Linked DNA regions of Homo sapiens. The protein of the gene in region 1 interacts with the protein of each later gene in a biochemical or structural test. Each region holds a gene or a part of one and is shown on either strand. Other genes may lie near its edges.

Region 1 (2,339 bases):
CTGCCTGGACTGTGCCCCCTGCCTGGCAGCCCTTCGGATGTTTCTGTTCACACCTTGATATGCAGCTCTGGCACTGCCACCTCCTCCAGGAAGCCCCCCAGGCTGCTTCCCCATCCCCATCCCCTTCCTCAAGGAGTCCCTGAGCCAGCAGGGACAGTTCTAGGAAACGTCTGGGGCGAGTCCATTTTCCAGATGAGGAAACTGAGGCACGGAGATGAATAACAACCTGCCCAGGGCCACCCTGATGGGGCCGGGTTAGAACCCACAGCCACGAGCATCCAGGAGAGAGACCCCCTGCAACCTGGGCCCCCATCCCCCGCTCCGACTCCCCCCATCCTGAGTTTGGGGCTCGGGGACTTGAACCCAGGGGACCTCTCCCTGGTTCCCTCCCTATATGGGAAGGACAGACAGGAGCCAGGGGGAGTTTCAACGTTTATTGAGGTCACGGTGGGCAGTTCCCCCTCCCCTCCCTATATGGGAAGGACAGACAGGAGCCAGGGGGAGTTTCAACGTTTATTGAGGTCACGGTGGGGTGAGGTGCAGGGCCGGCCTGTCTCCCGGAGCCCCGTGGGAGGGAGTGTGGGGGGACGGGTGGGGCCGTCCCGGACGCCACAGTGTTCGGGGAAGAGCTGCTTCTGTCCAAAGATCCGCCTCGAGGGTTTGGAGCCAGGCTCGGGGTCCCGGCCAGCGCTGTGGGAGGGGCGGTTCAGGGGCGGCCCTTGGCCTCCACACGGCGCAGCGTGGAACGGATCCAGTCCACGTAGAGGGCTACCCGCGTGAAGAAGTCAGGGAAAAGGCGGGTGGCACATCCCCAGATCACGAAGGAGTCTATTCCTTGGATGATGCCATCACAGATCAGGGGGCCACCTGAGTCTCCCTGGAGGACAGGGACGGCCAGTCACCCATCAGGGGCCACCTGAGTCTCCCTGGAGGATGGGGACGGCCAGTCACCCATCAGGGGCCACCTGAGTCTCCCGGGAGGATGGGGACAGCCAGTCACCCGGGCTGGCCCCAGGCAGCCAGGAAGGGGGCTGGGGTAGCCACAGCTGTTTCAGAATAAAATGCTTCCAATATGGAACTTTCTTTCTTTCTTTCTCTCTCTCTCTCTCTCTCTCTCTCTTTCTTTTTCTTTCTTTCTTTCTTTCTTTCTCTCTTTTTCTTTCTTTCTTCTTTCTTTCTCTCTCTATCTCTTTCTTTCTTTCTCCTTTTGTTTTGTTTTGTTTTGTTTTTGTTTTGTTTGCGACAGAGTCTCGCTCTGTCACCCAGGCTGGAGTGCAGTGCCGTGATCTCGGCTCACTGCAACCTCTGCCTCCCGGGTTCAAGTGATTCTCCTGCCTCGGCCTCCCGAGTAGCTGGCTGTCTTTCTCTCGAGACAGGGTCTCGCTCTGTTCTCCAGGCTGGAGTGCAGTGGCACAATCATAGCTCACTGCAACCTCGAACTCCCCAGGCTCAAGTGATCCTCCTGCCTTAGCCTCCTGAGTAGCTGGGCCTACAGGCTCACATCACCATGCCCAGCTAATATTTAAATTATTTGTAGAGATGCCACCCTGCTATGTTGCCCAGGCTGGTCTTGAACTCCTGGACTCAAAAGATCCTTCCGCTTTGGCCTCCCAAAGTGCTGAGATTACAGGCGTGAGCCACCACTGCTGGCCTGGAATTTTCTTTAAAATGTGTGAGCACCAGCCAGGCATCACTTGATGCCAGGAGTTCAAGACCAGCCTGGTCAACATGGAGAAACCTCATCTCTACTAAAAATACCAAAAAAATTAGCCAGGCACGGTGGCAGGTACCTGTGCACCTAGTTACTCAGGAGGCTGAGGCAGGAGAATACCTTGAACCTGGGAGGTGGAGGTTGCAGTGAGCTGAGATCTCACCACTGCACTCCAGCCTGGACAACAGAGCGACACTCCGTCTCAAAAACAAACAAAAAGTGTGAGCAGGGAGGGGCTGAGGTCTTTCGTAGGAACTGGGCATTTATGGGCCTCCCGCTGGATACCTGGAGTCCTGGATTCTGGAAGGGGCCGCCGGTGAGGGCGGATGGGTCTCCCACACCTTCCTGTGGTCCTAGAGGGGAGTGGGGGGCAGGGAACCCCCAGACCCACCCAAGCAGCCAGGTGCAATGTGAGCGCCCCCACCCCGCTGAGCCTGCCCGTTGGGTGTTGGGTGTGCCCACCTTCCAGGTGGGGAGACTGAGGCACAGCATGAAGCCACACAGCTAAGAGGTGGCGTGGAACCCTGGCCGCCGCCCTCCTCCCCTCATGGCAGCCCGGTGCCCGGGGTGGGGGCACGGTTACTTACGAAGCAGATGCCGGCCTTGCGGCGAGGGACGAAAGTGCAAA
Region 2 (4,193 bases), on another chromosome or scaffold:
CAACTACTTGTCAGGCTGAGGCAGGAGAATCACTTAAACCCGAGATTTGGAGGTTGCAGTGAGCCAAGATCATGCCACTGCACTCCAGCCTGGGCGACAGAGCGAGACTCTGTCTCAAATAAACAAAAAGAAAGAAAGAAAGAAAAGACAGGGCAGAGGTGAAGGAAGGCAAGGTGCCCAGATGGGTGTGTCATACTCACTGGGTGCTGCTCCTCATAATAAGCCGCCACTGTCTCCAGGTAGCCCTCTTTGAAGTCGTCCTGGGGAGAGGAGGGCACAGGGGGTTCATGCTGCTCCTGCCTGCCCCCTTCCCACTGTGGCCCCCACTGGTCCAGGTGATTCCCAAGGGGACCCGGGGCCCAGACCCAGTGTCCTGTGGAGCCTAAGACCCAGGGACTAAGCTTGGTGGAGGGGGAGGCCACGGCTCACCTCCAGCTCTGCCAGGCTCGACATCACCTGTTAGGAACAAAGCACTCGGTTCCAGGCCCAAGCCTCCTCTGCACCCCACATCAGTCAGTCCTCAAGCCCAGTGAGTCCTCAGCTCCCACACACCCCGAACTGGGCCCAGCCAGGGGCCCGGGCCACGTCTGGCACCCCTGTTGTTTCCTCAAGGAGCCCTGGGGCTTGGATGCCTCCCTCAGTCTCCCCGGGCGTCCAGATCCCCCACCCGCCCACTCACTGCCACCCAGGTGCAAGCATTTGCCCACGGTAAGGGGTGAGGGAGCCTGTGGGTCCCTCTTCATCCTTCTCACCCTGAGCCCCACACAGGGTGGAGTGCCTGGGGGCGGGGACATGTGACCTGGTGCCTGAGGGGAAATCCACCCACCTGTCCACGTCCTGATTCTGCATTTTGCATTTTATCATAAAATCTTTCTATGGCCTGGTGCTGTGAAGAGAGGCAGAGTTGGCACCAAAGGGCCGGATCCTTGTCCCTCCAGGGTCCCAGGTGTCCCACAGTGTCCTCAGTGTCACACGCTGAGACCCAGGCCCCCAACCCCTGAGCAGAAGTAGGGAGGAGCATTACCATTCGGGCCTTCAGCTTCTTCATGTCATCAGAGAGGACCTGCGGAAATAACGGTGACACTCAGTCTCCATGTGTCACCTTAACCTTTCCTCCAGGATAATTTATACACACACACACACACACACACACACACACACACACACAGAGACACATGGCAGAGGTACAGGATAAGAGGAGACAGCAGTCCCAGGAGCCCCTCACAGCCTGGAAAGACCGGCCAGGGCTGTCCTCGAAACGACTCAGAAAGCGCTTCTCTCAGGAGCCGGCTCAGCTGGGCAGGCCCAAGAGCAGGGCCAGCATGGGCCTAGGTGACCCCTCCTCACAAGAGCAGGGCCTGCGTGGGCCTAGGTGACCCCTCCTCACAAGAGCAGGGCCTGCGTGGGCCTAGGTGACCCCTCCTCACAAGAGCAGGGCCTGCGTGGGCCTAGGTGACCCCTCCTCACAAGAGCAGGGCCTGCGTGGGCCTAGGTGACCCCTCCTCACAAGAGCAGGGCCTGCGTGGGCCGGGGTGTCCTCCCTGCACACACACACCCCCCCATGTACACACACGGGAGGATGGACACTGTCCTGGAGCAGGCTGGCTCAGCTGGGTTTCCCACAACCACTATGGTCCCAGGTGAGAGTTGGCCAAGGAAAAAATGTTTAGGGACATGACAATTGAGAAGGTAACAGCAGCCATTCCTCTCTGATGAGCTGATTAATATTTGGGGTGCCAGGTAGGTCCACCCTACAACCTGCCACTCTTCCCGACTGCCAACATGCAGACCCACAGGTCCCGGGCCATTCCTGCCTGCAGACACGTGGCTGCATCCACAGAGGCCAGAGGCACCCCACAGAATCCCCGCTGAGCCCCCACGTCAAGGGCCTAGTCTCGGGGGTGACATGCCTGGTTTCCCCCACTATAGAGTGGTGACAGTCACCCACAGAGTGCGCAGGGCCTGGGGACATATTCTGGGCAGGGCAGCTGTCTGCACACTTTCAGGCAGCGATGGTCCCATCCCGCTAGCCTGATTTCCCAGGAACCAGGGTGAAAGCAGCACCGTGCCGACATGCGGGAGCCATGTGTCCTCCGGGTCACTGTCCTGAACCTGAGCCAGGCCACATCATGGAAACCCCTATTGTCACAGGCCGAAGAGCTCCCTGGAGGGTGTGGTGGGCCTAGCATTTGCGGTGGGGCAGTGGTAGAGGATGGGAGGTCGGAGGGAACCCAGGAAAGGAGGAAGAGACACCAGGACCCACACAGGCCTTGCTCTTGGGCCCACCCAGCTGAGCCGGCCTCTGAGAGAAGCATTCTCCGAGTCGTTTCCAGCAGAGCCCTGCCCCACCCCTGCCCCGGGCTTTCCGGGCTGTGAAGGGCTCCTGGGACAGGTGCTCCCTCTCATCCACACCCCTGCCGTTCTCCAGCGCCCCCGACACATATGACCTCCAGCGCCTCCACTGACACTCTCACCCCATCACTATCCTCCTGCCGCTGGGTGCCCCTGACTGAGCCCTGACACACAGGCACCTCGGGAAATACTGAGGGCACCCGCACCCTTACGGTCTGTTTTCAGACATGCCCACAAAAGCACACGCAGCCTCTCACTCACCTTCGGGAAGCACATGGCGGCCAAAAGTTCAAGGAGCCAAGGCCTGCTGGCGAGGAACAGGTGTGAGGAAAAGAAAGTGTCTCAGAGAAGCACCCTCCTCCCCAGAGGGTCCTCACCTTCGGGGACCCCAACTCCCCACCTGAGATGACCCAGCTCCACTGAGACAGTCACCTTCTGCACGCAGTCTTCCTGGCACAAATACTCAGCTGGTTTTATGGGGAAAGTGGGGGGTAGTGGGCGGAGCCTCTCTCAGGGCAGGAGGCCTTGCTGAGTGCGTGAAAAACAGACAGAGACAGAGACAGAGACAGAGACAGACAGAGATGGAGACTTACCCGAGAGAGACAGAGGTCTGGGGTCCCTGGGAGGAATGAGGGTCCGTCCCTGGCTGGGCCCCTGCTCCCTCTGAGCTGGGGTGGGAGTCTCTGAGCCCAGGAATGGGCTGCTTTCCCCACCCCACCAGCCTGAGAGTGGGGAGGGGCAGAGGGAAAGTCCAGACTCGGGACAGCTGGCTGGGGAAACTCCCTGAGTACAGGAAGGTGACGTCAGCCAAGTGGGATCCAAGGACAAAGGAATTTGGACCCTGTCCTTGCATGAGGTGTGCCCCGGCTCCAGAGGCCAGAGAAACTTCTGGATCAGAAGGAGGCAGGAACTGCCGGACCTAAGAGGGGCGCCGTGAGGGCAGGGGCCTGTGCACGTTGGAGGGGTGGCTAGTGGTGATGTAGATCTACCTGTGGGACAAGATAGGACCCTCTGCAGGGTGGAAGGCATCCTGCCGGCTGTCTGAGCTTGGCTGACCAGGTCCTTCTGACCCTTCTGGGCCAAGGCAAGGCCATCTGGGGCCGAAGGTCACTGGTCTCAGCAATCTTGGGGCTCCCCTACGGGCTCTTCTAGCTCCACGGGTTCTGACCCTCCAGCCTGGCTGGGCCTCCCACCTCCTCCTCACGGCCCCCAGCCCCCTTCCCCCAGCTGAGCACAACCACGCCCTTGCCTTTGGGATGGTTTCCTGGGGCCAAACTAAGGAAGTACCACGACAAGGGGCCCTAAGTCGAAGACGTCTCTTCCCTCACGATCTGCAGGCTGGAGGTCCAAGGTCAATGTGGGCAGCGTGGGGTCCTTCTGAGGGCCCGGAGCTGGGATTCTGTTCAGGTTTCTCCTGCCCTTGTAGATGGCCATCTTCATCTTCATCACGTTCTGCCTGGGTGTGACTGTCCCCCTTTCCCCTTTCCAAAGGACACCAGTCATATTGAAATAGGGTCCACCCTAGGCCGGGCGCAGTGGGTCACGCCTGTAATCCCAACACTTTGGGAGGCCGAGGCGGGCAGATCACCTAAGGTCAGGAGTTCTAGACCAGCCTGGCCAACATGGTGAAACCTTGTCTCTACTAAAAATACAAAAATTAGCCTTGCGTGGTGGCCGGCACCTGTATTCCCAGCTACTCGGGAGGCTGAGGCAGGAGAATCACTTGAACCCGGGAGGCGAATGTTGCAGTGAGCTGAGATGGTGCCACTGCACTCCAGTCTGGGGGACAACAATGAAAATTCCCCTCGGAAAAAAAAAAAAAAGAAGTAGGATCCACCCCA
Region 3 (3,500 bases), on another chromosome or scaffold:
TTTGTCCATGCTAAGATGAGAAATTAGCACCTCAAAGAGGTAGAATGCATTGTTTTTGTCAAAAGCTAATTGTGTTAGAGGCAGGATTTGAACCCAGGTCTTTCAGATTGCAAAACTGATACTGATTCTGGGACACTAGAGTCGTGTAAAGTATGTTCCATGAAACTATCCCTTTATGCAGTGTATTACAATTTGTTCTATAGTTCTAAGCATTATATATTCTACATATACAGTATACACAAGGACATTAAAGGCTCTGAAAAGTTCTGCAGAGCTGTCAGTAGTTTTGACAGTTTAATCTATTATTTCCTCAAATTACTCAATGATGGAAAACATTTTAGTGTTTGTGTGTAGAAAACTGAAGAATCCACGCTGAAAAGCATTGCTATGGCCCATAATGCATTGCCAAGGAGAGTTCAAGAACTGATGGTTTGAGAATATTTTTGCTTGTTTCTATGGGAACAGCTCAGGCTGGTTGAGCAACCTTACCTTTAAAGAAGATGTAATTCACCAGAGCAAAAACTGTGTCTCTGTCAAGCTCCTTGACCAAATCCACAATTTTCCCTTGAGTACCCTTCTCCACGTAATCGTTGATCTGTTTCTTGGCCTCTTCGGTGTCCCCGAAGTTGACAGTGAAGGCTTCTGAGTGGTACAACTTTTTAACATCCTCCAAAAACTTATCCACTAGCTTCAGGCCCTCGCTGAGGAACAGGCCATTGCCGGTGGTCAGCTGGAGCTGGCTGTCTGGCTGGTTGAGGGTACGGAGGAGTTCCTGGAAGCCTTCATGGATCTGAGCCTCCGGAATCTCCGTGAGGTTGAAATTCAGGCCCTCCAGGATTTCATCGTGAGTGTCAGCCTTGGTCCCCAGGGAGAGCATTGCAAAGGCTGTAGCGATGCTCACTGGGGAGAAGAAGATATTGGTGCTGTTGGACTGGTGTGCCAGCTGGCGGTATAGGCTGAAGGCGAACTCAGCCAGGTTGGGGGTGATCTTGTTGAAGGTTGGGTGATCCTGATCATGGTGGGATGTATCTGTCTTCTGGGCAGCATCTCCCTGGGGATCCTCAGCCAGGGAGACAGGGACCAGGCAGCACAGGCCTGCCAGCAGGAGGATGCCCCACGAGACAGAAGACGGCATTGTCCTGCAAGACAGAGATGGGGGGGCCAGGCCCCGAGTCAAGGCACATGATGACTCCCAGTGATCAGGGATTGACACCACGTGGAAGTGCCTAGGGATTATTAAACCAGCCTGTGCCAAGTACTTGCCGACATCAGTAACACTGAAAGAATCAGAAGAATAGCAAAATGTACGTAGTGCTTACCATATGCCAAGCACTGTTCTCCGTGCTCACATGTGTTAATTCATTGCTTTCTTGTAACAATCCCGTGAGGTGCTAATGCTAATATCCTTCTTTTACAGATGAAGAAACCAAAGCCAGAGAGATTAGGTCAGCTATTCAATGTCACTGAGGAAGTAGCAGAACCAGAATCCTACATCTAGGTCCTGCACCCAGGCTCTGGACAGCAACACTTACATCTGCAATGACCCTAAGATGCAAATGGTACAGCCATTGTTTTACAAAAGAAGAAAATGAGGCACAAGAAGAGGAATGGGCCTGCCCACGATTATCCAGGAATCGGGCCAGATCAGAATCAAGAATCATGTCAAGCTGGAAGCCCTTGGAGGGCTTCTATCTAATCCCACTATTTAGTGGCCAGGGAAACTGCTGCACAGAAGGGAAATGCATCTTGCACAATGGCAACAGCTAGAGAGCATGGAGGGGCTGTGATTAAACCTCCTGGGAGCTGTTCCCACCCAACACTCACAAGGATCCTCAGCCCTTAGGGTTTTTTTCCCAAGAGACGGGGCTGTCCCCACAATGCTCTGTGGTCCCAGACACAAGAATAGGCTGATGCTCCTGCAGTCAGCTTACCTGCCGTCTGGGTCACTAATGGTGTCCCAGTTCTGGGCTCTTGCTGTCAGGGGCTTTAGAGACGCTCATCTCTCCTTGAAAGCAGGGGTTTGTGCTGCTTTAAAGTAGATGGAGGAGGTGGGAAGTGAAAAGACACCTCTTTTAACTTCAGATAGACCTGGGATCTAATCTGACTCTGTCACTTTCCAGGTGTATGAGCCAGGACAAGTCATTCATCTCCCTGGTCCTCATTTTGCCTCATACATAAAGTGATGTTTATGTATGAGAATTTAGTGAAATAAGTCTCAACACCAAACCTTACATCAAAAGGATCTGAGAGGGCAACTCTTTTGAGGGAGGGGTTGGCAGGTGTTGCAAATTCAAAGGCTTCAGGTGATAGGCCAGTGAGGAATACATGTTTCATACCCGGGGCTGAGACAATAGGGAGTGGTGGGGCCTGTGGCTGAACCAGCGAGAGCAGGCTCTGCCGAGCAATGGTCAAAGTCAACGTCATCCACAGCAACACAGAACCTGCCCTGCCCCACAGTGATCCTTCTACTCCAGATATGCCCAGGCTTCGGACCACCAGCCTGCAGCCCCCTAGGTAGAACCTGCCGTCTTCACAGATGGGAAAACTGAGGTCCTAGCTGAGGAGAATATGCCCGGCAGCCACATTGTTAACTACTAGTCACAAAACCAAAACCATCATCTTAACAAAATACAAAGAAAAAGGTGTCCTTGAATTTGGGAAATGAAAAACTGGAGAAAAAAAGCTGGAAATAACAAATATTGAGATTCTTCAACCCCCTTGGACTTTTAAAAGTTTCCTTCCAATAAAGCAACAAATGAAGTGCAAAGCTGGTTTCTCTCCACCACCTTTCTCCTGGCCCTCGTGCCTCTAAGTAATCCAAATGGAACAGACCACACATTACATAATACATGTTTGTATTTTTCTTCAGCTAGCTAGTGTTGTTAGAACTAAAGACGGTGCTAAAATTAGTGCTGTATATTTCCATCTCCCTTTAATTTCTCTTTCACTTCCCAACTGAACTTTGTGCAGTCCTTCATGGCTTATGGAAATTCCCCCATCATTACAGGGCTCAGTGGTCAGGAGGGAGTTGGGCCTCTGCAGGGTGGGGACACTAAATATGCTGAGTGGCCTCAGGGCCAGAGGTTGTGGCTTCTAGCCCTGGCAGGGCCATCACTATCCACTTGGCCTTTAGCAAGAATCCTCTGGTCCTGGGGCCTCACTCTCCCCAGTTGTGCAAAGTGGGGCTGGGAGAAGACTTCACTGGGGCCCTCTGTACACTAACATAGGTTTTTGGGTTTTTTTTGAGACAGAGTCTCGCTTTATCTGCCAGGGTGGAGTGCAGTGGCGTGATCTCGGCTCACTGAAACCTCCACCTCCCGGGTTCAAGAAATTCTTCTGTCTCAGCTTCCCAAATAGCTGGGATTACAGGCGTGTGCCACCACGCCTGGCTAATTTTTGTATTTTTAGTAGAGCTGAGGTTTCACCGTGTTGGCCAGGCAGGTCTTGAACTCCTGACCTCTTGATCCGCCTGCCTTGGCCTCCCAAAGTGCTGGGGTTAC

The links. Proteins that work in one complex are often made in the same cells at the same time.
Region 2: the proteins of PRTN3 (region 1) and IL32 interact in a biophysical measurement, tested with the Homo sapiens proteins (one study listed by IntAct).
Region 3: of the proteins of PRTN3 (region 1) and SERPINA1, one has a biochemical effect on the other in vitro, tested with the Homo sapiens proteins (one study listed by BioGRID).

What each region holds. Positions count from the first base shown.
Region 1 is NC_000019.10:846,337-848,675, reverse strand, and holds the end of PRTN3 (myeloblastin precursor), read right to left. Parts: coding exon 2,299-2,339; intron 927-2,298; coding exon of another isoform or gene 906-926; exon of another isoform or gene 878-905; coding exon 707-877; 3' UTR 501-706; downstream 1-500. UniProt on the Homo sapiens protein: Serine protease that degrades elastin, fibronectin, laminin, vitronectin, and collagen types I, III, and IV (in vitro).
Region 2 is NC_000016.10:3,064,247-3,068,439, reverse strand, and holds the start of IL32 (interleukin-32), read right to left. Parts: upstream 2,801-4,193; 5' UTR 2,753-2,800; exon of another isoform or gene 2,657-2,752; 5' UTR 2,629-2,656; coding exon 2,614-2,628; intron 1,064-2,613; coding exon 1,025-1,063; coding exon of another isoform or gene 887-1,024; coding exon 827-886; intron 457-826; coding exon 430-456; intron 261-429; coding exon 201-260; intron 1-200.
Region 3 is NC_000014.9:94,382,103-94,385,602, forward strand, and holds part of SERPINA1 (alpha-1-antitrypsin precursor), read right to left. Parts: intron 1,278-3,500; exon of another isoform or gene 1,140-1,277; 5' UTR 1,136-1,139; coding exon 490-1,135; intron 1-489.